Linked DNA regions of Homo sapiens. The protein of the gene in region 1 interacts with the protein of each later gene in a pairwise test. Each region holds a gene or a part of one and is shown in the gene's direction. Other genes may lie near its edges.

Region 1 (3,500 bases):
TATTCTTTACTTTTTCCTACTTTTCCAGGCTCAGCAGGGAGCTGCTGGATGAGAAAGAGCCTGAAGTCTTGCAGGACTCACTGGATAGATGTTATTCGATTCCTTCAGGTTATCTTGAACTGCCTGACTTAGGCCAGCCCTACAGCAGTGCTGTTTACTCATTGGAGGAACAGTACCTTGGCTTGGCTCTTGACGTGGACAGTGAGTACCTTACTATGAAGGTGATAAGCCTCCACCTGGTCTTCCAGATAGGGGTGATATTCCTGTTCCAAGTGGCCCTTACTGACCCGAGAGATGTCATTGCCGCAGGCAGGACCTGTGGGCGCATATAGGTTGTAATGAAACTGTAGTCTCAGTTGGAAGCCTAGACATGAAATGGGTCAGTGAGCAAGGCTCTATTCCTAGTCTCCAGCCATGCCTGTGGCAACCTGAGCCCGCTCTCAGCACATTGGACCCAGGCAGATGCAAAAAATTCACAGAACTATGATTTGGACTCAAGGGTTTGTAGATTTCCTCCTTCATTCTAATTTCAGTGTCTAAAATTCTTGCATCCATGAACGAGCTGGGCATTTGATGAGACAGGGCTGAATACTGCAGTTTTCCTCCTAGAAATCATCTGGGGCATTTTCTTTGAACTGATGGGAACAATAAGGCATAACTGTTTGCACAAACTTGGGATAAGTGATTTTGGGATAACGATCTACCAGAATGGGGATATTTCACCCTTGGTTCTGAGATGCAAACCAAAGAATATCATGACCAGCTTTCAGGCCTCCTGAAGTATATCTCTCACATTGTCCTGTTCTCATGCTGAGGAGCCTGAGATCCCTGTGTGGGGATTAGACAGTGGACTGTTATGGGTGTAGGTGAATTGGCTTATTTTGTCTGTCCCTGTCTGAATGTATTGCAGGAATTAAAAAGGACCAAGAAGAGGAAGAAGACCAAGACCCACCATGCCCCAGGTAACTGAGCAATTGTGAACAGCTACTTCTGTGTTGACATCTGGAGACTCCTGGTTCAGGGAAAACAGAGCGGGCTGACATTATCGATTACATCTTTTCAAGCAAGCCTGAATTATTCCTACTAACATTGCTGTTGGTTTTCATTGCAGTAGATATTTAGGTTTCCATTTCTTCCTCCCCTTATCATTTACTAACCTACTGTAGGTGGACCAGACTTCAAAAACTGTATTCTCATGGCGACTGCATGGAAACTTGAGCACATTTTATGGAAAATTATTGAGCACAGTCTTTTCATGATCACTGTATGCTGTGTGTCCTGAGGGCACTAACTCAGAGTGTCCTGTTACTCCCTCATCAGTGTGTCACCTGGACAATTCACTGAGCTCGTTCTCTCTCTCTCTCTCTGTGTGTGTGTGTGTGTGTGTGTGCGTGTGTGTGTGTGTGTGTGTGTGTCCATCTGTCTTTCTCTTTCATTCTTTTCCATTTGGCCCTGTTCTGTCCCAACATGAAGGCAATAATTTGTTACCTCATTAATGGATCTATCCTTTTACTTTCTTAACCACTTCCCTATGCTACCCATGAAACCTAGTTGGGGCTCTGTTGTGTGTGATTTCCCCTGGCTTATTCTTTACTTTTTCCTCCTTTTCCAGGCTCAGCAGGGAGCTGGTGGAGGTAGTAGAGCCTGAAGTCTTGCAGGACTCACTGGATAGATGTTATTCAACTCCTTCCAGTTGTCTTGAACAGCCTGACTCCTGCCAGCCCTATGGAAGTTCCTTTTATGCATTGGAGGAAAAACATGTTGGCTTTTCTCTTGACGTGGGAGGTGAGTACCTTTCTATGAAGGTGATAAGCATCCACTGAGTCTTCCATATAAAGATCATATTCCTGCTCCAAGTGGCCATTACTGAGCTGAGAGATGTCGTTGCCGCAGTGAGGACCTATAGGCACATGTAGGTTGAATGAAACTCTAGTTCTACCTGGAAGCCCAGACAAGGGATGGGTCAGTGAGCAAGACTCTCTTCCTAGTCTCAGGCCATACCTGTGGCGCCCTGATCCTATTCTCATGACATTGGACCTGGGCAGATGTGACAAATTCAGAGAACTATGATTTTGACTCAAGGGTTTGTAGATTTCCTTTTTCACTCTAATTTCAGTGTCTAAAGTCCTCACAACCATGAACAATCTGAGTATTTGATGAGACAGGGCTAAATATTGCAGTTTTTCTCCTAGAAATCATTTGAGGGTATTTGCTTTAAATTGATTGGAAAAATATGGCATAACTGTTTGCACAAACTTGGGACAAATGATATTGGGATAACGATCTACTAGAATAGGGACATTTTACCCACAGTTTCTGGGAGAAAAACCGAGGAATTTCTATCATGACCAGCCTTCAGGCCTCCTGAAATATATCTCTCACAGTGTCCTATTCTTATGCTGAGGAGCCTGAGGTCCCTGTGTGAGGATTAGACAGTGGATTGTTATGTGTGTAGGGGAATCAGCTTAATGTGTCTGTCCATGTCTGAATTTATTGCAGAAATTGAAAAGAAGGGGAAGGGGAAGAAAAGAAGGGGAAGAAGATCAAAGAAGGAAAGAAGAAGGGGAAGAAAAGAAGGGGAAGAAGATCAAAACCCACCATGCCCCAGGTGACTTTCAGCAATTGTGGATGCTTAATTCTGTGTTAACACCTGGAGGCAACAGATTCAGGGAAACCAGAGTGTGTTTGATGTCATGTTTTCAACGAAGGCTGAATTACTCCTACTGTCATTGCTGTTGGTTTTCATTGCAGTAGATGTTTAGGTTTCCATTTCTTCCTCCCCTTATCATTTCCTAACGTACCATAGGTTGACCATACTTCAAAAGCTGTACTCTCATGGCCACTGCATCGAATTTTGAGCATATTTTATGGAAAACTATTGAGCTCACTCTTTTCATGATCACAGTTTGCTGTGTGTCATGAGGGCACTAACTCAGAGTGTCCTTTTACTCCCTTACCAGTATGTCACCTGGCCAATTCACTAGGTCACTTTCTCTCTGTCTCTGTCTCTGTCTCTCTCTCTGTCTCTGTCTCTCTCTCTCTCTCTCTCTGTCTTTCTCTTTCATTGTTTTCTACCTGGCCCTGTTCTATCCCAACATAAAGGCAATAATTTGTTACCTCATTAATGGATCTGTCCTTTTTCTTTTCAAACTCTTCCTTAACGTTAGCCATGAAATCTAGCTGGGGCTGTGCGGTTTCTGATTCCCCCTGGCTTATTCTTTACTTTTTCCCACTTTTCCAGGCTCAGCAGGGAGCTGCTGGATGAGAAAGGGCCTGAAGTCTTGCAGGACTCACTGGATAGATGTTATTCAACTCCTTCAGGTTGTCTTGAACTGACTGACTCATGCCAGCCCTACAGAAGTGCCTTTTACATATTGGAGCAACAGTGTGTTGGCTTGGCTGTTGACATGGATGGTGAGTACCTTTCTATGAAGGTGATAAGGATCCACTGAGTCTTCTGGTTAGGGTCATATTCCTACTGCAAGTGGCCCTTACTGAGC
Region 2 (3,500 bases), on another chromosome or scaffold:
GAGAGAGAGACTGAGGAGCGCTGGGACACCCGGAGCTGAGAGCCTGCCCCGCGCCCACAGACCGACCGCTCGGGAGCTCGCCCCCGCCTAGCCTCGGCTGAGATGCAGGGCTCTGAGCTCCAGGTCACAATGCACGACACCCGGGGCCGCAGTCCCCCATACCAGCTGGACTCCCAGGGGCGCCTGGTGCTGGCTGAGGCCCAGGTGGGCGACGAGCGAGACTACGTGTGCGTGGTGAGGGCAGGGGCGGCAGGCACTGCTGAGGCCACTGCGCGGCTCAACGTGTTTGGTAAGTGTCCTCGGGCATCCCCCGAAGGGAGGCAGGCAGGGAGGGGCGCAGGGCAGGGGCTCCTGACGTGAACGTCTTTTTCACAGCAAAGCCAGAGGCCACTGAGGTCTCCCCCAACAAAGGGACACTGTCTGTGATGGAGGACTCTGCCCAGGAGGTACCTCTCGGGTGGACCTTGGCCCCAGGGTCCTGGAGGAGGAGGGGACAGGGCCCTGGACTCCTGGGTCTGAGGGAGGAGGGGCTGGGGACCCCTGGGTAATAAAGGAGGAGGGGTAAGGCCAGGCGAGGTGGCTCATGCCTGTAATCCCAGCATTTTGGGAGGCAGAGGCAGGCGGATCACCTGAGGTCAGGAGTTCCAGACCAGCCTGGCCAACATAATGAAACCCCGTCTCTACTAAAGATACAAAAATTAGCTGGGTGTGTTGGTGTGCAACTGTAATCCCAGCTGCTCGGGAGGCTGAGACAGGAGAATCACTCGAACCCAGAAGGCAGAGGCTACAGTGAGCTAAGATCACACCACTGCACTCCAGCCTGGGCCACAGAGCAATACTCCGTCTCAAAAAAAAAAAAAAAAAGAAGAAGAAAAGAAAAAAGAAAGGAAGGGCAGAGGGGGAAGACTCCTGTGTCCTAGGAAGGAGAGAGCTGGGGGACCCAGAATCCTTGGTCCCTGGAGGATGGTGCTGGAGGCCTGGACTCTTTAGTCTGAGTCGGGGACTAGGAATTTGGACTCCTGGGTCCTGGGAGAGTCGGGAGTTAGGAGCCCGGCTCATGAGTCTGAGTGGGGAGAACTCCTGAGAGAGGAGCCCCGACTTCAGAGTCCCAGCTCCAAGCCCAGGGCCATGCCCGTGTCTGCCTCAGATCGCCACCTGCAACAGCCGGAACGGGAACCCGGCCCCCAAGATCACGTGGTATCGCAACGGGCAGCGCCTGGAGGTGCCCGTAGAGATGAACCCAGGTGAGCAGCGCAGGAGCGCGGCGGGACGTGGGCTGGGGTGGGTGGCGGGGCTATGGCCTGGCTGACTGCCACCTCCCCCGATCTCTCCCAGAGGGCTACATGACCAGCCGCACGGTCCGGGAGGCCTCGGGCCTGCTCTCCCTCACCAGCACCCTCTACCTGCGGCTCCGCAAGGATGACCGAGACGCCAGCTTCCACTGCGCCGCCCACTACAGCCTGCCCGAGGGCCGCCACGGCCGCCTGGACAGCCCCACCTTCCACCTCACCCTGCACTGTGAGTCTGTGCTGGCCTTTGACCTCTGACCTCAGGCTCCACACCTCATGAGGCCTGACCCTCCACCCGGGGGCTTCACACTCCCCTCTGACCCTCTGCCTCCCTACTTCATGCTAAAAAAAAATGTGCTAGTGCTGGCCACTGACCTCTGACCTCAATTGGTCGCACAAGCCCCATCCTGACCTCTGACCTCCGACCTCCACTTAGCACCCTGGACCCCATGAAGTTTATGACTAAATGGTGCTTTCCACCTTCTCACACTGAATTGGGTCCCCCCATGACATCTGGCTCCAAGTCTCACACTGACCCATCGCCCATACGGACCTCTGACTCTTGACCTATACTCTTAGTTTATTTCAACCTCTGAACTCTGGCACTCAGAATAATTGTGAACCTGAGGCTTGAAACCTATGACCCGTAACCTTTGACCCGCCATAGCCCTCACCTGGGATGCAGGGCTGACCTCTCGCCTGTCCTCTAGCCTTGACCCTTCCCCTGATCACAATTCCCATCTCCCTGCCCTTCCCTTAGATCCCACGGAGCACGTGCAGTTCTGGGTGGGCAGCCCGTCCACCCCAGCAGGCTGGGTACGCGAGGGTGACACTGTCCAGCTGCTCTGCCGGGGGGACGGCAGCCCCAGCCCGGAGTATACGCTTTTCCGCCTTCAGGTGACCCACCCAAGGGTCCCTCTGGGATCCACCCCCCAGCCCCTGACCTCTGTGACCTGCTAACCTGCATAACTTCTAATGTGGGACCTGGGAGTCCCCATGGCTTAGGCAGCCACCTGATCTGGTGGCCCACGAACTAAAAGGACCTCTGACCCCTGATTTGAGAGAGTCAGGACTTAGCATGCCACCTGACTTGATGGCCCCTGACCCCTGATTCTGGCTTAGCATGACACTAACCTGGTGGCTTCTGACCTAGCATGAGCCCGCTGAACCGGGGTGGCTTCTGAGCCTGGTTCCTCGTCCCCCGTCTCCCAGGATGAGCAGGAGGAAGTGCTGAATGTGAATCTCGAGGGGAACTTGACCCTGGAGGGAGTGACCCGGGGCCAGAGCGGGACCTATGGCTGCAGAGTGGAGGATTACGACGCGGCAGATGACGTGCAGCTCTCCAAGACGCTGGAGCTGCGCGTGGCCTGTGAGAGCCCTGGGTGAACGGGCGGGCAGGAGGGGCCCTGGCATCAGTGCCTCTGCGCCCTCCTCCCTACAGCCCTGAAGTTGCTCTGTCATCCCAAACACTCTGCCTTCAACCCTTTCTCTGCATTTCTTGGGGGTTTTTTTGGTTGTTTTTTTTTTTTTTTTTTTCCCAGAGACAGGACCTGGCTACGTTGCCCAGGCTGGTCTCGAACTCCTCATGCGATCCTCCTGCCTTGCTCTCCCAAAGTGCTGGGATTACAGGAGTGAGCCACCGCATCTTGTCGAGAGCTCTTTCCATAGCACAGACCTGACCCTCCTCTGCTCAGAATCTGCCATGGCTCCCCAGTACCCTTGGGAGAAGCCCAGGTGTCTCACCATGGCCTTCAAGGTCCACCTGGCCAGTTCCACCATTAGCTAGCTGATCCTTCTCCCCAGTCAAGGCTATCTCCTCATCACCCCCCAGGCTCCTCTGGTTCCTACCTTCACTGCCCATCCTTCCTACCGTCTATTTCTCACCAATCCCTTGAATCCCAGGCTTCTAAGAATGATTTTCAGTTCATTCGCATCCAGGCCCTGGGGAAAGGCTGTATTCTCCCTTGGCACTTCTTACATATCCCTTCCTGGGGTAGACCCTGCGCCAGATGCTGGGGACACATCTGTGAACAAGACAGACCACCCCTGTTATTTCAGTAGGGGAGACAGATGGTAAATGCTAACTAAGCCCTTTCGTAACAGTAGTGTATCTACAGGTGATATCACCAGTGAGAGAGAGCAGGAGAGGGGATTATTTTAGGTGGCAGGTGTTGCAGTCTGCTTTCCTGAGAAGCAGATTCTGACTTGGAT
Region 3 (3,500 bases), on another chromosome or scaffold:
CCTCCACAATCTACTCTCATCTTGGCAGGAAGAAAAGGCTTCAGGCTCCTCCGCTGTCCCCAGTTAGATCCATGTGTAATCTTATTCCTCATTCTTTCTCCAGCTTCCCCTAAAGTACGACTGAGCTTGGCAAACGAAGCTCTGCTGCCCACCCTCATCTGCGACATTGCTGGCTATTACCCTCTGGATGTGGTGGTGACGTGGACCCGAGAGGAGCTGGGTGGATCCCCAGCCCAAGTCTCTGGTGCCTCCTTCTCCAGCCTCAGGCAAAGCGTGGCAGGCACCTACAGCATCTCCTCCTCTCTCACCGCAGAACCTGGCTCTGCAGGTGCCACTTACACCTGCCAGGTCACACACATCTCTCTGGAGGAGCCCCTTGGGGCCAGCACCCAGGTTGTCCCACCAGGTACTGGGAGTGTCCTCCTTTTCCCCACCTCCACACTAGGGCTCATGGCTCTCCTGCCCCAGCTCATCTATGGCCTTGTTCTGCTGCCCATCCACTTTGTTCGCAGCCCTGGCTTCATGCTCCTGCCTCTGCTCCTGACTATTTTCCCAAGGCGGCAGCTGCCACAGCTTCTACCACACATCCCCTGAGACTTCATTATACTCCAGCCTCCAGGGTGTCAGGCAATGTGCTTAAGGCTGGAGATCACAGATGAATAATTCCTGATCATGCCCTCCAGGAGCTTAGTCCAGTAATAGAGACAAGACTAAGTAGACAGAGAAGATGGCATTTGAGCCAAGTTAACTAGCTTAGAGGGAAGGGAACACTCAAGATAGAAACAATAGCATATATGAAAGCCAAATCATAAAACAGCCTAAAGAGAATTTGGAGAATTGCAAGTAATTCAGCACAGCTAGAGCTTAGGGTATATGGGAAAAAGGGAAAGTGGCTCTGAAGCTTCGGAGGTAATTCTATTTATTGAGCATTTACATGAATCAAGCAGTGTAGAAAGCACTTAAATGTATGATTTCATGGATCATGACTCCCATTTTACAGGTGAGTAAACTGGCACTTGCAGATGTCAATGAATTTGCCCAAGGTCACCTATCAATCAATGGTAAAGAGAGAATGTGAAAAACAGGCAACCGGATTCCCCTTACGGGCTTAATTAAACCCTGTAGATCTCACTGGGCCTTCAAGCTGGAACTTCCTGAGAGCCATAGCATGCTGTTGAAAGGTTTTATTTATTTATTTATTTATTTATTTATTTATTTATTTATTTTATTTTATTTTACTTTTTTTCGATACAGAATCTTGCTCTGTTCCCCAGGCTGGAGTGCAGTGGTATGATCTCAGCTCACTGCAACCTCCATATCCTGGGTTCAAGCCATCCTCTTGCCTCAGCCTCCCAAGTAGCTGGGATTACAGGCGCGCACCACCACGCCTGGCTAATTTTGCGTTTTTAGTAGAGATGGGGTTTCGCCATGATGGCCAGGCTGGTCTCAAACTCCTGACCTCAGGTGATCTGTCCGCCTCGGCTTCCCAAAGTGCTGGGATTACAGATATGAGCCACCGCACCCTGCCTGTCGAGAGGTTTTAAGCAGGAAAGGGACAGGAAAGAACCCGCAACTTGAAGTGGAAACATCCAGGAGCACTGGGCATTATTTGGTTGCTCATTAGACTGTGAACTTCCCCAAAACTGAGGTTTCACTTCAGCTCACATCATTCCCCAACTATTTACAAAATCCCAGTTAACTGGTGGTTTTTTGTTTTGCTTTGTTTTATTTTGTTTTGTTTTGAGATAGGGTCTCACTCTGTCGCCCAGGCTGGAGTGCAGTGGCACGATCTCAGCTCACTGCAAACTCTGCCTCCCAGGCTCAAGTGATTCTCCCACCTCAGCCTCCCAAGTACCTGGGACCACAGGCGCACACCAACATGCCCAGTTAATTTTTTGTATTTTTTGTACAGACAGGGTTTCACCATGTTGCCCAGGCTGGTCTCGAACTCCTGACCTCAGGTGATCCACCTACCTCAGCCTCCCAAAGTTCTGGGATTACAGGCATGAGCCACTGTGTCCAGGCAAGTTAAGTGCTAACAAATAAACCCACCTAAATCTCACTTGCAAAGCAATTTTTAAAACCTTGTCCTTAGGTGGGAAGAGGTAGAGAATTCTGTGTGGAGTAACTCACAAGTATCCAGCAACCTTGAATAAGAACAAATGCTGCTGAGTGCCTTGTTCCAGGCTCCTCAACCAGGGACTCACACACACAATCCTTAGCTCCTCCTCCCTGGGGTGGACACTGCAGGTGAGGGCTCAGCTCATGATTCCTGCGCACGATGATCCCCGCCCACGTTGCTCTCACCTACAGAGCGGAGAACAGCCTTGGGAGTCATCTTTGCCAGCAGTCTCTTCCTTCTTGCACTGATGTTCCTGGGGCTTCAGAGACGGCAAGGTAAGAGCCTGGGTGCCCTTGGCTCTGGCCCTGGCCCACCTCACCCACTCTAACCACCCCCCCGCCCAGACCAGGGTGGAAGCCCAGATGCCCCAAGCTCCAGCCACCCACCCATCACAGCCTCCTGCTTTTGAGTTTGCCCTAAATGAAAATGAAACCAGTCGTGTTCCCTCGTTTTCTCCTAGCTACCTCACTAAAGTCTGTCACTCTCCTGCCTCAGAGTAGAAAGAAAGAGTAGTCACGTGCTCCCAGAAGGACTCTAAGTCAAGTCACAGAGCTAAAAATACATGAAGGTGGCACCAGCTCATGGGGCACTGGGCCTGGCTCTGCAGAGGCCTCTGCCTTCCTTCACTGTGCACCCTGGGCTCATGCACCAAGGCAGAGAACAGGAAGAAGTGAGGGGACAAGAAGAAGGCAGAATGTCCAGATGGAGGATAAGACCAAAGAGCCAGGTTGGTGGTGTGACGGTAGGAAAACAAAGCTGGAGGAAATGGAGAAGGAACAAGTGAGGGACAATGAGGCATGGGTTGGGGCTGGGCTACCCCTCCCAAACTCAGCTCTGTCAAAATAAAAGGCCCTTGTGTCTGCTGCGACCAAGCTTTTCCACTTTCCTGTCTTTCTCCACACTGGTCCCAACTGAGCCCTGTCACCAAGCCTAGCGGCTCCAACTTGCAAAGTGTTTAAGTATGAAACAAAGGCCCTCAGAGGCACCCCCGTGGCTCCATCTCAGTTGCACCTCAGCTGCAATTAGGGTTCTGCTCCCTCGGGTGACTGCTGGGAGGTTCAGGATACCTGCAAATGCCTCACTCCCTCAGCTGCAAGGAGAGACTTCTCCTTTTTATTCGTTTCTAAAATGTGCCTAATCAATACGGTGGAACTCAGCATACCAAAACTGTACGTGAGGATGATGGGGAAAAGGGGGTAAGGGGGTGTTCACTGACAGCCTTATCTGGGCACATCCCCTGGGACAGGACAAGCAGGCCAAGGACCTAGGAAGGAGCACAGGAGGCAGATGGAAGAGGCCTGAGGGAACCTGTGCTTGTTTGCCAGTGTGAGATGCCCACGCAACTTCCTGTCTTCACTTCCTCTTACCAGCACCTACA
Region 4 (3,500 bases), about 140 Mb from region 1:
GAACCAGGGAGGTGGAGGTTGCAGTGAGCCAAGATCGTGCCACTGCACTCCAGCCTGGGCGACGGAGGAAGACTCTGTCTCAAAAACAAAAAACAAAAAAACTCCCCAAAAAACAGAATAAAACTTATCTCCATGCTGCTCCAAATCTGTGCTGTCAGAACATGTCAGAATGAGAGGACCTTGGGGGTTACACAGGCCAGCCCCTTCTTTTATGGTTAAGCGTCTGTGTCCCCTAGAAGCTGGCTCTTTTGAAATCTTATAGCAGTTTATGCATTTTCTTATGATGCCTGCTAGTTTCTACCCCATTTCATCTCCATGTGTACACATGTGACTCTAAGCTTTCTGAGGCCAGAATCTCTACTGGGTTTGTCTTTGCATCGTCCACAGTGTCTGAATCAGCGCCCTGCACAAAATGTAAACTCTTCAAATATTGGTTGACTTGCCTGGGCATCTCATCGCACCAAGACTCCTGCCCCTGCCCCTGTCTTTTCATCAGACCATGCTTCTTGTAGACTCCTCATCCAGGGTGCAATATAGTGTAAACCCAGCAGTGTCTTGTTCACAGGGCTCACATGACAGGGCAGCCCTTCCTTGATGGATCTGCTCTCTCCATCCTTGCCTGTGGGGAACAGCTGCTGCTGGTGCTGACCAAGTAGTCACTTGACACTCAGCAAATATGAAGTGTAGCTCTTTATTATTATTTTTTTTTTTAGATGGAGTTTTGCTCTTGTTGCCCAGGCTGGAGTGCAATAGCACAATCTTGGCTCACTGCAACCCTCTGCCTCCTGGGTTCAAACGATTCTCCTGCCTCAGCCTCCCAAGTAACTGGGATTACAGGCGTGTGCCACCACGTCTGGCTAATTTTTGTATTTTTAGTAGAGATGGGGTTTCACCATGTTGGTCAGGCTGGTCTCGAACTCCTGACCTCAGGCGATCCACCCACCTCGGCCTCCTAAAGTGTTGGGATTACAGGCGTGAGCCACCGTGCCTGGCCTGAAGTGTAGCTCTTAATTAGACCATGGACTTTGTACCAAGACCATCAGGTTTGGATCTTGGTTCTGCCTTCAGGAGCTGCATGATCTTCAGCAGGTAACTTAATCTCTCTGTGTCTCAGTTTCCCCATATGCACAATAGTAATACTTTCCTCATGGAGTTGTTGGGAGGATTAAATTAAGTAATACCTAGTAGATACTCAGAAGACCACCTAGCACTTGGTATATGCTAAATTGAAGTAACCATTATTTCGCCTTTTTTTATCTGCTTCTTAGCTCCCACCAGCATTTAAGCTCTTTGAGAGCAGAGATTTTTGTCTCTTTTTGTCTACTCTTATAATATAGTACCTAAACTTTGTAGTACTCTGAAAATATTTGTTGAATTGAATGACTGATTGAGCACCTATGTGCTAGGCACTGTTGCGGATGCTATGGACGTAGCCAAGAACACGGTCTTTAAGAGGCATGCTCTTATGAAGTTTATCTTCTAGTGGGAGAGACAGATAGTAAACAAATAAACGAGTCAACAAAAGAATGTAGGGTGGTGAGGCCGGGCGCGGTGGTTCACGCTTGTAATCCCAGCACTTTGGGAGGCCGAGGCGGGTGGATCACCAGGTCAGGAGATCGAGACCATCCTGGGTAACATGGTGAAACCCCGTCTCTACTAAAAATACAAAAAAAAAAAAAATTAGCCGGGCATGGGGGCGGGCGCCTGTAGTCCCAGCTACTCAGGAGGCTGAGGCAGGAGAATGGCGTGAACCCGGGAGGCGGAGCTTGCAGTGAGCCAAGATCGTGCCACTGCCCTCCAGCCTGGGCGACTAAGCAAGACTCTGTCTCAAAAAAAAAAAGAATGTAGGGTGGTGAAAGAGATACGGGGGAAAATAAAACAGAAGATAGAAAGTGGATGGGACGAGGGTTAGGGTCATAACTTTAGCTCTGAGAAGGTGGCTTTTGGGAGACATGGATGGTGATCTAGGGGGACAGCTTTGTGGACAGAGAGGACTGCAAGAATGATCAACCCAGAGGGGCTGGAGTGTGGTTAGTGATGAATCAGCAGGGGCCAAATTTGTGGCTGTGGTTAGGAGTTTGGATTTTACTTTTGAATTCTGAACAGTGGGAAGTCACTGCATGGGAACTTTTCCTGGGGTCTAGGAGAATATTTGAGTCCACACTAAAAGACAGAACAGGACATTACGAAGAGCGGCTGGAATAGGCTCTCCTTGTCCTGGGAGGTTTTTGAGGCCAGCCAGAGTATTGAGTTTCTTCCCATCAGGTTCCTTATTTCTCTGGCCTGGTCCCCTGAAGATGAGGGAAGCATCAGCTAGGTTGATGACAGTCCTGGTATGTGTGTCTGTGTGTCCTGCATTTTATTGAGCTTCCTTTTTTCCGAGTCCCTAAGTCATCAGCAAACATTTCTTGAGTTGAATGAATGAATGTTGCCAGTGCTTAGCAGCTTGTCGTCTACAGTGGAATGTCTGTGTTCTCTGCTCCTCTCTGTGTGAGTTAAAGCTTCTTATCTTGGCAGTGACTCTTAAGTAGTCTTGGAGTTTTGCAGCCATTCTTCATAAATGCATCAGCGACACACATACATGTATATCACTGTTTCTTTGTTGAGAGTATACCAAGATTGACTGGACAGCTTTCCTACCCCCACCCTATCCCTACTTCTCTGCCAGTCCCTGCCATCACCAGGCCCCTCTATAGAGGGTTGGGCCACACTGGCAACTCTGACCATCTCCTGTTTGATTACTTGATCAGGAACACAGTGGTATCTAGAAAGCATTGGTTGTCTTTCATCTGGGCTGAGCGGAGTTGGGTAACTCAGCAGAGCGCTGAGAGAAATGGCATTTCAAACCCAGGGGCTCCACTCACCAGGAATCCAGAGTGGGACTCTTTAGACTGGGTGCCATTGGCCAGCTTTTCAGATCCCTTTTTGGTCCTCCCATCAGTTGTCCACGATGCCACTTGCTCTGCTAACCTGGAGAGACCAACACAAGTTAGTGGGAATCAAATAGGACGCTTGTGTTGCAGGTCACTTTCAGAGTCCTGGGGCATTTTATTGGCAGAATCTGAAATGCCTGCTAGTCATATGTCATCTGTAGATTTGTAAAAACTAAACGCAGAGTGGGTGCAAGCTTTTTCTCATGTAGCTGGTTTTCTTACTATGAGAATGATACGTGCTCATTTAGAAAATGAGAAAGTGAATGATAGTGGCATTTTACATACACTGTCTCATTTCATCCTCACGGTTTCTGAGATACGTACCATTATTACCATTTTGTATGTTAAGAAGCTGAGGCCTAGAAAAGTTAAGTAAAGTGTTTGAGGTCGAGCTAGTTGGGAACAGAATCAGATTCAAACCAGGCAGTATGACTCCCAGGCAGAGCTCTGAGCACCATGTCATATACTGATTCTCAGCAGAAACCATAGAGAAGAAAGAAAAGCCTCCCTTAAGCCCAATGTAGGTGATACTCTTAGGGTAGTCAGAGTTAACTTGCTGGCTGCTCC
Region 5 (3,500 bases), on another chromosome or scaffold:
TTTGTCGAGCACCTTGTGCTAGCTCTTCCCAGTACTGGATGCAACTGTGAACAAAGCAGGCAGAAGCCCCTCTCCTTGTGGAGTTCATATTCTAACAGCGGGGACAAAGCCAGTAAGAAAAACTATCAAATGAACAAATATAATTTTAGGTGCCAGTAGAACAAGGGAGAACAATGAAATAGGGCAAGTGATAGAGAAAGGGCAGGGCCAGTGAGAGTTTAGGGAAGACTTCTGTAAAAGGTGCATTGGAGTTGGTATTTAAATTAAGAAGGGAGCCAGCCATGTGATAGGCCCTGAGATGGAAATGGGCTTGTATGTTGGAGGAACAGTAGTCGCCTGTGTGGCTTGAGTTGAATAAACGATGGTGAGAGGGGTTGAAGTTGCCTGAGAGGTGGAAACTAAATCCCATAGGCCTTGTAAAAGCATAGTAAGGACTTTGGCTTCGGCATCAGTTATCCATTGCTACATAGCAAACCACTTCAAAACGTGGTGGCACTTTGGGAGGCCGAGGCAGGTGGATCACTTGAGGTCAGGAGTTTGAGACCAGCCTGGCCAACATGGTGAAACCCCATCTCTACTAAAAATACAAAAATGGCTGGGTGCAGTGGCTCACGCCTTGTAATCCCAGCACTTTGGGAGGCCGAGGCAGGTGGATCACGAGGTCAGGAATTCGAGACCAGCCTGACCAACGTGCTGAAACCCCGTCTCTACTAAAAATACAAAAATTAGCCAGGTGTGGTGGCATGTGCCTGTAATCCCAGCTACTCAGGAGGCGGAGGTTGCAGTGAGCCGAGATTGCGCCACTGCACTCCAGCCTGGGCGACAGAGCGAGACTCTATCTCAAAATAAAATAAAAAATACAAAAAAAAAAATTATCCAGGCATGGTGGCACATGCCTGTAATCCCAGCTACTTGGGAGGCTGAGGCAGGAGAATCGCTTGAACCTGGGAGGTGGAGGTTGCAGTGAACAGAGATCGCGCCACTGCACTCCAGCCTGGGTGACAGAGCAAGACTCCAACTCAAAAAAAAAAAAAACCAAACCGTAGTGACTTGAAACAACAAACAACAGCCGTTGACATGCTTATGATTCTGTGGACAGGTTCAGGTGGGCCCGCTCGTCTACCTGGTGTGCTATCGGCTGGGTGTACACGTTTGCAGTCAGCTGATGGGTGAGCTGGCCTGGTCCCTGGCGGCCACACTCACCTGTCTGGCAGTTGACTGGGGCTATTGACCAGGGTGCCTTAGTTCTCCTCCACATGGCATCTCCAGTAGGCTAGCCAGGCTTCCTCACCTGGCAGCTGGGTTCCGAGAGGGCAAAAGTGGAAGCTGCAGTACTACCACTGTGTTCTGTTGGACAAGGGAAGTCACAGGCCACTCAGATTCCAGGGACTAGAAAAATACACCATGACCCAGTTCAGTGGCTCACGCTGCAATCCCAGTATTTTAGGAGGCCAAGGTGGGAGGACTGCTTGAGCCTAGGAGTTTGAGACCAGCCTGGACCACATGGCCAGACCCCGTCTCTACTAAAAATAAAAAAAAAATTAGCTGGGCCTGGTGGTACGCGCCTGTGGTCCTAGCCACTTTGGAGGCTGAGGTGAGAGGGTTGCTTGAGCCTGGGACGCTGAGGCTGCAGTAAGCCATAGTGGCGTGACTGCACTCCAGCCTAGGTAACAGGATGAGACCCTGTCTCACACACACAAAAAGAAATAAACTCTACCTCTTGATGGGAAAGTGTCAACATCACATTGAAAAGAGTTGAAAGGGATGGGAGGATTGTTTATAACTATCATTGCAAGCAGCCTACCACACCACATTGGATGGGAAGGTCTTGCAGGGTTTTGAGTGGAAGACTGATTTTTCAGAAGATCGCTCTGGCTGTTTTGAGACTAGAATGTTAGGGCCAAGAGTATAAACAAGGAGACCCATACTAAGTAGATGACTATAATAGTCTAGGGGAGATACTGAAGGAGCTTGAACAGAGGCAGTAGCGGTGGGGGTGAGAGGTGGTCAAATTCAGGATATATTTAGGAGCCCCAGTAGATAGGGTTTGGTAGAACGAGTGTGATGGGGGTGGGGTATAGAGAGAAGACAAGGCTAGCTTTTTGGCTTTCTTAACTGACTAGATAGTTCTATTGACTGAGATAGGGAAAATGAGTGAGCAGGTTTTGGGGGAAGTCAGGTGTTCTCTTTAGCACACGTAAAGTTTGAGATGCCTGTTGGATATCCAGTTGGAAATGCCAGTAGGCAATTGGATTTATAGGAATCAGGATGTAGTTTTGGGAACCAACCATTCATGTTGTATTGAAGGTTGTGGACTGGATGAGTGAGTGTTGCTAAAACAGAACAGATTTCTGAGGACTGCGCCTTGGCATTTTATGGTGTAATAAGAAGAACAAGGGTTTCAGAGTCATATAGACCAGAGTTTTAAATTCTGTCACTATTAGGTATTAGCAAATCACCATTACTTCTTCTTTTTTTATTATTGTTATTATTATTTTTTATCTTTTATTTGAGATGGAGTCTCACTCTTTCGCCCAGGCTGGAGTGCAGTGGCGTGATCTCGGCTCACTGCAACCTCCACCTCCCAGGTTCAAGCGATTCTTGTGCCTCAGCCTCCCCAGTAGCTGGGATTACAGGTGCCCGCCACCACACCCGGCCAATGTTTTTGTATTTTTAGTAGAGACGGGGTTTCACTATGTTGGCCAGACTGGTTTTGAACTCCTGACCTCAAATGATCTGCCCGCCTTTGCCTCTTAAAGTGCTGGGATTACAGGCGTGAGCCACTGTGCCTGGCCACCATTACTTCTTTGAACATCTGTTTTCTTAGCTGTAAAGTGCGTGTTGGAATACATACCTTGGGGGGTTTGTTTTTTTTGTTTTTTTAGAGATGGGGGTTTCACTCTGTTGCCTAGGCTAGAGTGCAGTGTCTTACAGCAGCCCTCCCGCCTCGGCCTCCCAAAGTGCTGGGATTACAGGTGTGAGCCACCACTCCCTGCCTACCATAGGGGCTTATAACTAAGATAATGTTAACTAAGTTAATTAATGTGACAGTTAACTAAGATAATGTTCAAAAGGTGCTGGTGGCCGGGCGTGGTGGCTCATGCCTGTAATCTTAGCACTTGGGGAGGCTTGAAGCCAGGAGTTTGAGACCAGCCTGGGCAACATAGCAAGACCCCATCACTACAGAAAATAAAAAAATTAGCCAAGTATTGTGGTGCATGCCTGTGGTCCCAGCTATTTGGGAGGCTGAGGTGGGAAAAATCACTTGAGCCTATGAGTTCGAGACTGTAGTGAGCCATAATTGTGTCACTCTACTCCAGCCTGGGTGACAGAGTGAGAACCTGTCTTAAAAGAAAAAAAATTTTAAAAAAGGTGCTGGCACCTGGGTCTTCCGTAAAGGGAAACTCCTGCCATCTGAGGAGCATGGGGCTTCTGAACTCAGGGCCTAGAATGGTAGTAGGATTTCTTGGAGATGGATCCTTTAGTTTTGGAGACCTGTG
Region 6 (2,635 bases), on another chromosome or scaffold:
GAGCCCTGTGTGTGGAGTATATACTCAGAATCAGCACATTTCAATAAATACATGTACACCTTAATAATACATACATTTGTAGCAAAAAAATGGCTAGGTTATTATAGTACAAGCTTAAAGGGAAAAATTATTGAAAATAACACACATTTTAAAGAATAAAACACACAGCCAGGTGCGGTGGCTTACGCCTGTAATCCCAGCACTTTGGGAGGCTGAGGGGGGCGGATCACCTGAGATCAGGAGTTCAAGACCAGCCTGGGCAACATGGTGAAACCCCATCTCTACTAAAAGTACAAAAATTAGTTGTGGTGGCAGGTGTCTGTAATCCCAGCCACTTGGGAGGCCAAGGCAGGAGAATTGCTTGAACCCAGGAGGCAGAAGTTGCAGTGAGCCAAGATCGCGCCACTGCACTCTAGCCTGGGCAACAGAACAAGACTCCATCTATTAAAAAAAAAAAAAAAAAAAAAAAAAAAAGTCGGGCTCGGTGGCTCACTCCTGTAATCCCAGCACTTTGGGAGGCTGAAGTGGGTGGATCACCTGAGGTCAGGAGTTAGAGACCAGCCTGACCAACATGGAGAAACCCCATCTCTACTAAAAATACAAAATTAGCCAGGTGTGGTGGCACATGCCTGTAATCCCAGCTACTCAGGAGGCTGAGGCAGGAGAATCGCTTGAACCTGGGAGGCAGAAGTTGCAGTGAGCCAAGATCACTCCATTGCACTCCAGCCTGGGCACTAAGAGTGAAACTCTGTCTCAAAAAAAAAAAAAGAATAAGACACACAGTACTGACCTATACAGGCACCCACTCTTATGTCTGCTCTTTATTTTGCCCAGCTTCCAGATAAATTATCATCAGATAAAATCTGCTTCAGATTTACCATGCGGCCTTAAAAGCATCGCATGATACTGAATCCTTGTCTCCAATGTCTTTGACTTTAAGAGCATTTTCCCTTTTCTAATAACAGCTTAATTCACATGTATGTCTGTTGGATATTAGTCTTCATGCTGCCATGTTGAATTTCTTCTAAAAGTCTTCTTCTCTAAAAGTCTTAATGAGCAATACTATCGTATAGAGATTACTTGCTAGTAAAAAGACAGATTTGAGAATCAGACAGATGTGGATTTCCTTTTTTGGCTCTGCCACTTATGAATGCTGTTGTCCTGGGCAAGTTCCTTCTCCTCTCTGGTTTCTGTTTTCTCATCTACAAAAATGGAGGGCAAGCTTCAAGGTTACTGGGATCTCAAGTTGTGTTAGTCTGCTCAGGCTGCCATGACAAAGTACCACAGACTGGGTGGCTTAATCAAGAGAAATGTGTCCTCTCACTGTTCTGGAGGCTGGAAGTCTAAGATCAAAATGTTGCCAGGGTTGGCTTCTTTTCTTCTGAGGCTCCTCTCTGTGGCTTATAAACAGCCATCTTCTCCCTATGTCTTCACATGGTCTTCCCTCTGTACTGTCTGGGTCTAAATTTCCTCTTCCTTTAAGGACACCAGTCATATTGGATTAGGGCCCACACTAATGACCTCATTTAACTTAATTACCTCTTTAAAGACCCTGTCTCCAAATACAGTCACCTTCTGGGGTACTGGGGGTTAGGACTTCAACATAAGAATTTTGTGGGGGACAGAATTCAGCCACAGCACAAGTGTATAGTACCTGACCCACGGCAGGCTTAGTAAGCCTACTTATTGTCTACCTCACCCACATTTAAACTGCACAAACTTTTAATGGGACGCTGTGTGTCTCTGTAGACTCCCAGACACACTAAACCTATTTAAACAGACAACTCAGCATTGTGACAGGCGCACTCTGTCCTTCCTTTATTATCAGGGATGAAGCTGTTTCTTCTCTTTGCCCCAGATTCCGGATGTCATAAATCTTTAAAATGAGTCATCCTTGTGTCTCCTCTCTCCCTCCTGCCCCCACAATCTTCCAGCACTGTGCCAGGGTGCTTTCATCTATATGTGGAAATGTGCTCACCTGCTGATTGTAAACTCAGTCATTGCCTTACTCTTCAAAATTACTGGTCCCAGCGGGCTTCTCTTCCAGCCATTTTTTCCTGATTCTCCATCTCTGGCAGCAGCTGCTGTGCCTTGATTCAGAAGCTGCCCTTGTCATATCTGAGCAAGTATCCCCCAGGGCTTCACGTGACTCTCACATAGCCTTGTCCTCCTCCTCCTCTGCTGTCCGCAGCCCTGGGTGGAGGGCCTGCAGTGGGGAGCTTGTCCTGCATCAGCACCTCAGAGGGGCAGTATTCCCTCATCCCAGTGGCATCCCAGCAACAACCTGTCCCCAGGTACCGTGGCCCTTTCAGCTCACTCTTTCAGCTCTTCTCAGGTCCCGCTCTGAATGTCCCCAGAGAAGCAGCCAGAGGAGCTTGTGTCCCTGGGCAACTGAGCAGCCTCCTGAATGCTCCTTTTGCACTTGTTTTTCTCTTCCAGCTGCAGAGCCCTTGCTCCGTGAGCAAAGCCTGGGTGCCCAAGCAGCCACCGCAGCAGCAGAGTACAACCTGCAGAGAAGCTGATCACCGGGCAGAGATAGAGCGAGCATGTGTGTGTGTGTGCGCGTGTGCAGAGGAGGGAGTGGTGTGCCTGTTTGTGTGTGCATGCATCTGTTGACACTCATGATTCTGAATGT
Region 7 (4,220 bases), on another chromosome or scaffold:
TAGCTCTCCCAGGGCCCAGGCACAGGGGGTCTTGGGGCCTGGCTGAGGGCAGGCTCGGGGTGGGGTCTGGCACAGGAGACAGGGAATGCAGGGGTGGTGACTCCGGGCCTCCCAGCATAGGTGGGCATCAGGAAAGGATTTCTGCGGAGCACCCTGCCACAGGGCCTCTGCTCCGGCTTTCCGCCTGGACGCCTTCCTGCTGCCCCCAGGCAGCCCTCATTCTTCAGGGTGCTGTCTGTCCCAGAGCGCAGCTCCTGGAGGGTGAAGGTTCCCTGAAGCTTTGGCTGCATTCCCTTTACCCTGGGGTCCACCCAGGGTCCTACCCCAGCAGCTCAACCAGCAGCTTCTGGACAAACAGAATCCTCCCTGGTTGAGGACTGCGTCTCCCCCCTCACCATCTCAGGGGCCTGCTCCTCCCTCCTCAGACTGGGTCCCCGGCTCACCCTCCATTCCTGGAATCCCCTGTGGTCTGGGTGCCCTCACCAGCACAGCCCCTAGGACAGGTCTCCCGGCTCCTTCCCTCCAGAGTCCACAGCCCCCAGCCCCTTTCAGGCGTCTCCCCACAGGCCCTTCCCTGCTCTTCCTGCCCCCTGAGACCGCCTGCTGCGATGGCCCTGGAGCCCTGCCCTCTGCAGGTCCCCGCTCGGTGGCCCGGGGTGGGGTCCCCCGCTTCGCAGACTCCTATCCACAGTTAGGCCCACGGGGGCAAGGACCCAGACTGCTGCCAGCGGCGGGGAGGGGTGACCCGCGTGGACGCGGCTCTCAAAGGACACCAGCGCCACCTGAACAAGACCCGTGGCGCGCACGAGGCAGGAGAGCTGGGCGCTCGGCGTGAGGCCCGGGTGGGGGTCGCGAGCGGACAGCCCCGGGCCGCAGGCGGGTCCCCCGTTGCAGTGAGGACAGCGGTCGGGCGCCGGGGGTCCTGGGCCTCGGGCAGGGCCAAGTCTGCGCGTGCGAAGACCCCACGGACGGAGCCGCCCAAGCACCGCAAACCCCGCTTTCCGGGACCCACTGTGGGAGGCCCGCAGCGCTGCCCCTCGCCGGGGGCGTCCTGCGCGGCCGGGGGCCTCGGACAGCATCCGCGTCTCGCGTGGGAGGCGCCTGTCTGCGCAGCCGCGGGCCGGGACCCCGCAGGTACAACGCCGCGCGTGCGGCGTCCGGAGAAGTCTGGCCCGGCTGCGGTCAAACCGAGCCCACGTGGACCAGTTCCCCACGGCTGGTTCGCGAGCGGCCTCCGCGCACAGGCCCCGCCCCTTAGCAGGCCCCGCCCCGCCCGATCACAGGGCCCGCCCCCAGCCCCGCTCATCGACGGGGCACGGCTGCGACCCTTAGCAGGCCCCGCCCCGCCAGCCCCCAGATCCGCCCACCAGCAGCGCCCCGCCCCGCCCCGCGGCCCGCGCCTGCGCAGTGGGGCAGGCGCAGTCGGAAGCAGTGTACCGGGCCGTGGAGCGGCGGCTCCTGTACCCCCGGCGCGGACCTAAAGGGGCTCGGGCCGCTCGGGCCGGGAATGGCGGCGGCGGCCGAGCCCGGGGCCCGCGCCTGGCTGGGCGGCGGCTCCCCGCGCCCCGGCAGCCCGGCCTGCAGCCCCGTGCTGGGCTCAGGAGGCCGCGCGCGCCCGGGGCCGGGGCCGGGGCCGGGACCCGAGCGGGCGGGCGTCAGAGCCCCGGGCCCCGCTGCCGCGCCGGGACACAGCTTCCGGAAGGTGACGCTCACCAAGCCCACCTTCTGCCACCTCTGCTCCGACTTCATCTGGGGGCTGGCCGGCTTCCTGTGCGACGGTGAGCGCCCGGGCCCGATGCCTACCCGGCTGCAGCCCTGCCTCTGCCCCGTGGGCGGGAGCCTGAGCGGAGGTGGCACCGGCGCTTTCGGGGGAGTGGAGGGCGGGGTCCCAGCCCTGCTCGCGGGACGTGCCTTCGTGGGGCGGCCGGGGCCTGTGCGCCGTGGGGCCGCTCCAGGCTGCGGGCTTCCTCACCTGGGAGGTGCGGACAGCATCTCCATAGTGCCGCGCGATGGCTGCGACCCAGGGGCTGTGCCTGATGCGAGCGGGACCTCAGCTGGGGTCCCCATGGCCGGCTTCCTCTCCCAGTGGCTGGGGCAGCAGGTGTGGCTAAGCAGGGCTGGCCTGGGCCCCTGGCCCTAGCCCTTCTCATGCTGTGGCCCAGAGTCCCAGCCTCCTGGAGAGCCAGGCCGGGCCCTGCCGTCCCGGTGCGCGTGTCCCAGCCCTGCTCCACCCAGCTGCCCAGCTCTTGCTGGGGTGAGGACAGCCCTTCCCTGTTCTGGGCCCGGGTGCTCCCAGGGCTGGCTCTCATCTTCCCCCGCGGCAAGCAGGCGGGCCCCGGGGACTACAGCCCAGCCTCTGGAGGGAGCGAGGGACAGGGGGACCACAGCCCAGCCTCTGGAGGGAGCGAGGGACAGGGGGACCACAGCCCAGCCTCTGGAGGGAGCGAGGGACAGGACCGGAGTTCTGGACGTTTGACACTTACTGTGTCCTGGCCAGGGACGCTGAGGTGGGAGGGGCTATCCTTAGCCTCAGGCCTTTCTCTGGGGATAGGGGTCCACTCAGGTCAGGGTCCGCAGAGGAGACTGTCCCCTCACACGGGGATGTCGTCTGTGGTGGAAACGGCATGGTTGTTCTGACCCCCAGGGCTGCACAAGGTGGCCTGGCCCGCCAGCTTCTTTGTCACGTCAGAGCATGGCACAGCCATGCCTGCTGCCTGGGGATGCCAGGGGCTTCCCCAGAGGTGGGGAGTGTGCATGTGTGGCTGAGGCAGCTCCCGACTTGAGGCCAGACTCCGGGTCCCCTCCCCCTTCGGAGGGGGCAAAAGGGCCCTCCTGGGCAGCACCCGTGGAAGAGGGGCCAGCAGCGGTATGGGAAGGAGGGCACCCTCCCCGCCAGGAGACCCAAGCGTGGGGCGTGGGGTGAGCAGGCCCTGTCTCCATGGCAGAGGAGGGACCTGGGTGCTGCCTGTCCCCCCTTCTCTCGGTGGACCCTGGCCTGCTTCCAGAGCTTTTCTCTTAAGCTGCCAGGAGAAGCTTCTCCCGGTCCCATCTGGAGACTGGGGTGGCTAGGGCTGCAGCAGGTGAAGGGCGGCACCAGCGGGGCCTTCTGGAAGAGCTCCCTGTCCCAGCTGGACTGCCTGGGGCTCCGTGGCACAACCTTCACCCGGGGCTGTCTTGGCAGTTGTGTCACTGGGTGCCCTGCCCACTCCCAGCCCCCGCAGCCTTTGCCCCAGCCCAGGGTTCCTGCCCTCCCTTCTGCCCCGGCCCCACCCTCCTGTCTGTTTTACTGCTGGGGTGTGGCGCTTGCTCCTCTTATGCCCTCCTGAGCACCCCGCCGGCTCAGGTGCTCCCTGGGTCCTATGCACACAGCCAGAGCTCCTTGGGAGGCTTGGGGCTGTCCACTCCCCAGCGGCTCCTGCCTCCCAGAGCCCTCACCTGCCTTGGGTGGCTCTCGGTCTCAGGCACGGTGCACAGCACGTAGCAGGGACAATTAGGGGTATGCGTAGTTTCGGGGGAGTGAGACACAGATGTCCTTGGTAAAGCCAATCTGCCGAAGGCCGAGAAGCCCCTGCCACCTGGCGAACCTGGTGAGCCCAGGGCTGCCCCTTGAGAGGCCCAACTGCAGAGGCAGGAGGAGTGCTGGGCCTACGTGCGAAGGGGAGGGACTGCTCTCTGGATGAGAGGATACACTCATTGTCCTCCAGGATGGTCAGGACCACCCAGGTTCTTGCTCCTGGGCTCCTGGGCTGCAGGCTCTCTCCAATGAGTGGGCAGGGTGGTGGGGGAACTCGAGGACCACAGGGCCCCTGGTGCAGCATGGTGGGTATGGCAGTCATTGCCCTGGGGCCTCTAACTTCCTGGGTAGGACAGCCATTGGGTAGGACAGGGGCCAACTCACACAGTGCTCATTCCCACAGTCTGCAATTTCATGTCTCATGAGAAGTGCCTGAAGCACGTGAGGATCCCGTGCACGAGTGTGGCACCCAGCCTGGTCCGGGTGAGTGTGGGGCTGGGTGTTGCACCTGCAAGAGGCTGGGGGATGTGTCAGCTCTCGTAGGGTCGAGGCACTGAAAACCTTCATGTCAGACGTTAGTGATACCTGCAGTTGAAAGGCAAAGGGCAGATACTGCTCGGGATTAAAAGGCTGAGCACCCTGCATGGATCTGCAGGGAATGATGGTGATAAAAGCCAGTCCCCGAGGTCGCAAATAGCAAGATCCT

What was found.
Region 2: the proteins of NBPF19 (region 1) and BCAM interact in a two-hybrid assay, tested with the Homo sapiens proteins (one large-scale study listed by BioGRID).
Region 3: the proteins of NBPF19 (region 1) and TAPBPL interact in a two-hybrid assay, tested with the Homo sapiens proteins (one large-scale study listed by BioGRID).
Region 4: the proteins of NBPF19 (region 1) and CTNNBIP1 interact in a two-hybrid assay, tested with the Homo sapiens proteins (one large-scale study listed by BioGRID).
Region 5: the proteins of NBPF19 (region 1) and PTK7 interact in a two-hybrid assay, tested with the Homo sapiens proteins (one large-scale study listed by BioGRID).
Region 6: the proteins of NBPF19 (region 1) and CRY2 interact in a two-hybrid assay, tested with the Homo sapiens proteins (one large-scale study listed by BioGRID).
Region 7: the proteins of NBPF19 (region 1) and DGKQ interact in a two-hybrid assay, tested with the Homo sapiens proteins (one large-scale study listed by BioGRID).

Annotation. Positions count from the first base shown.
Region 1 is NC_000001.11:149,499,045-149,502,544, forward strand, and holds part of NBPF19 (NBPF family member NBPF19), read left to right. Parts: intron 1-28; coding exon 29-201; intron 202-910; coding exon 911-962; intron 963-1,612; coding exon 1,613-1,785; intron 1,786-2,499; coding exon 2,500-2,608; intron 2,609-3,241; coding exon 3,242-3,414; intron 3,415-3,500.
Region 2 is NC_000019.10:44,812,103-44,815,602, forward strand, and holds part of BCAM (basal cell adhesion molecule isoform 1 precursor), read left to right. Parts: intron 1-60; coding exon 61-289; intron 290-375; coding exon 376-446; intron 447-1,147; coding exon 1,148-1,244; intron 1,245-1,335; coding exon 1,336-1,518; intron 1,519-2,049; coding exon 2,050-2,186; intron 2,187-2,501; coding exon 2,502-2,658; intron 2,659-3,500. UniProt on the Homo sapiens protein: Transmembrane glycoprotein that functions as both a receptor and an adhesion molecule playing a crucial role in cell adhesion, motility, migration and invasion.
Region 3 is NC_000012.12:6,458,542-6,462,041, forward strand, and holds part of TAPBPL (tapasin-related protein isoform 1 precursor), read left to right. Parts: intron 1-103; coding exon 104-406; intron 407-2,313; coding exon 2,314-2,397; intron 2,398-2,582; exon of another isoform or gene 2,583-2,849; intron 2,850-3,492; coding exon 3,493-3,500. UniProt on the Homo sapiens protein: Component of the antigen processing and presentation pathway, which binds to MHC class I coupled with beta2-microglobulin/B2M. Association between TAPBPR and MHC class I occurs in the absence of a functional peptide-loading complex (PLC).
Region 4 is NC_000001.11:9,903,770-9,907,269, reverse strand, and holds part of CTNNBIP1 (beta-catenin-interacting protein 1), read left to right. Parts: intron 1-3,500. UniProt on the Homo sapiens protein: Prevents the interaction between CTNNB1 and TCF family members, and acts as a negative regulator of the Wnt signaling pathway.
Region 5 is NC_000006.12:43,135,314-43,138,813, forward strand, and holds part of PTK7 (inactive tyrosine-protein kinase 7 isoform a precursor), read left to right. Parts: intron 1-3,500. UniProt on the Homo sapiens protein: Inactive tyrosine kinase involved in Wnt signaling pathway. Component of both the non-canonical (also known as the Wnt/planar cell polarity signaling) and the canonical Wnt signaling pathway.
Region 6 is NC_000011.10:45,878,475-45,881,109, forward strand, and holds part of CRY2 (cryptochrome-2), read left to right. Parts: intron 1-2,439; 3' UTR 2,440-2,635. UniProt on the Homo sapiens protein: Transcriptional repressor which forms a core component of the circadian clock.
Region 7 is NC_000004.12:970,770-974,989, reverse strand, and holds the start of DGKQ (diacylglycerol kinase theta), read left to right. Parts: upstream 1-1,420; 5' UTR 1,421-1,507; coding exon 1,508-1,778; intron 1,779-3,917; coding exon 3,918-3,997; intron 3,998-4,220. UniProt on the Homo sapiens protein: Diacylglycerol kinase that converts diacylglycerol/DAG into phosphatidic acid/phosphatidate/PA and regulates the respective levels of these two bioactive lipids.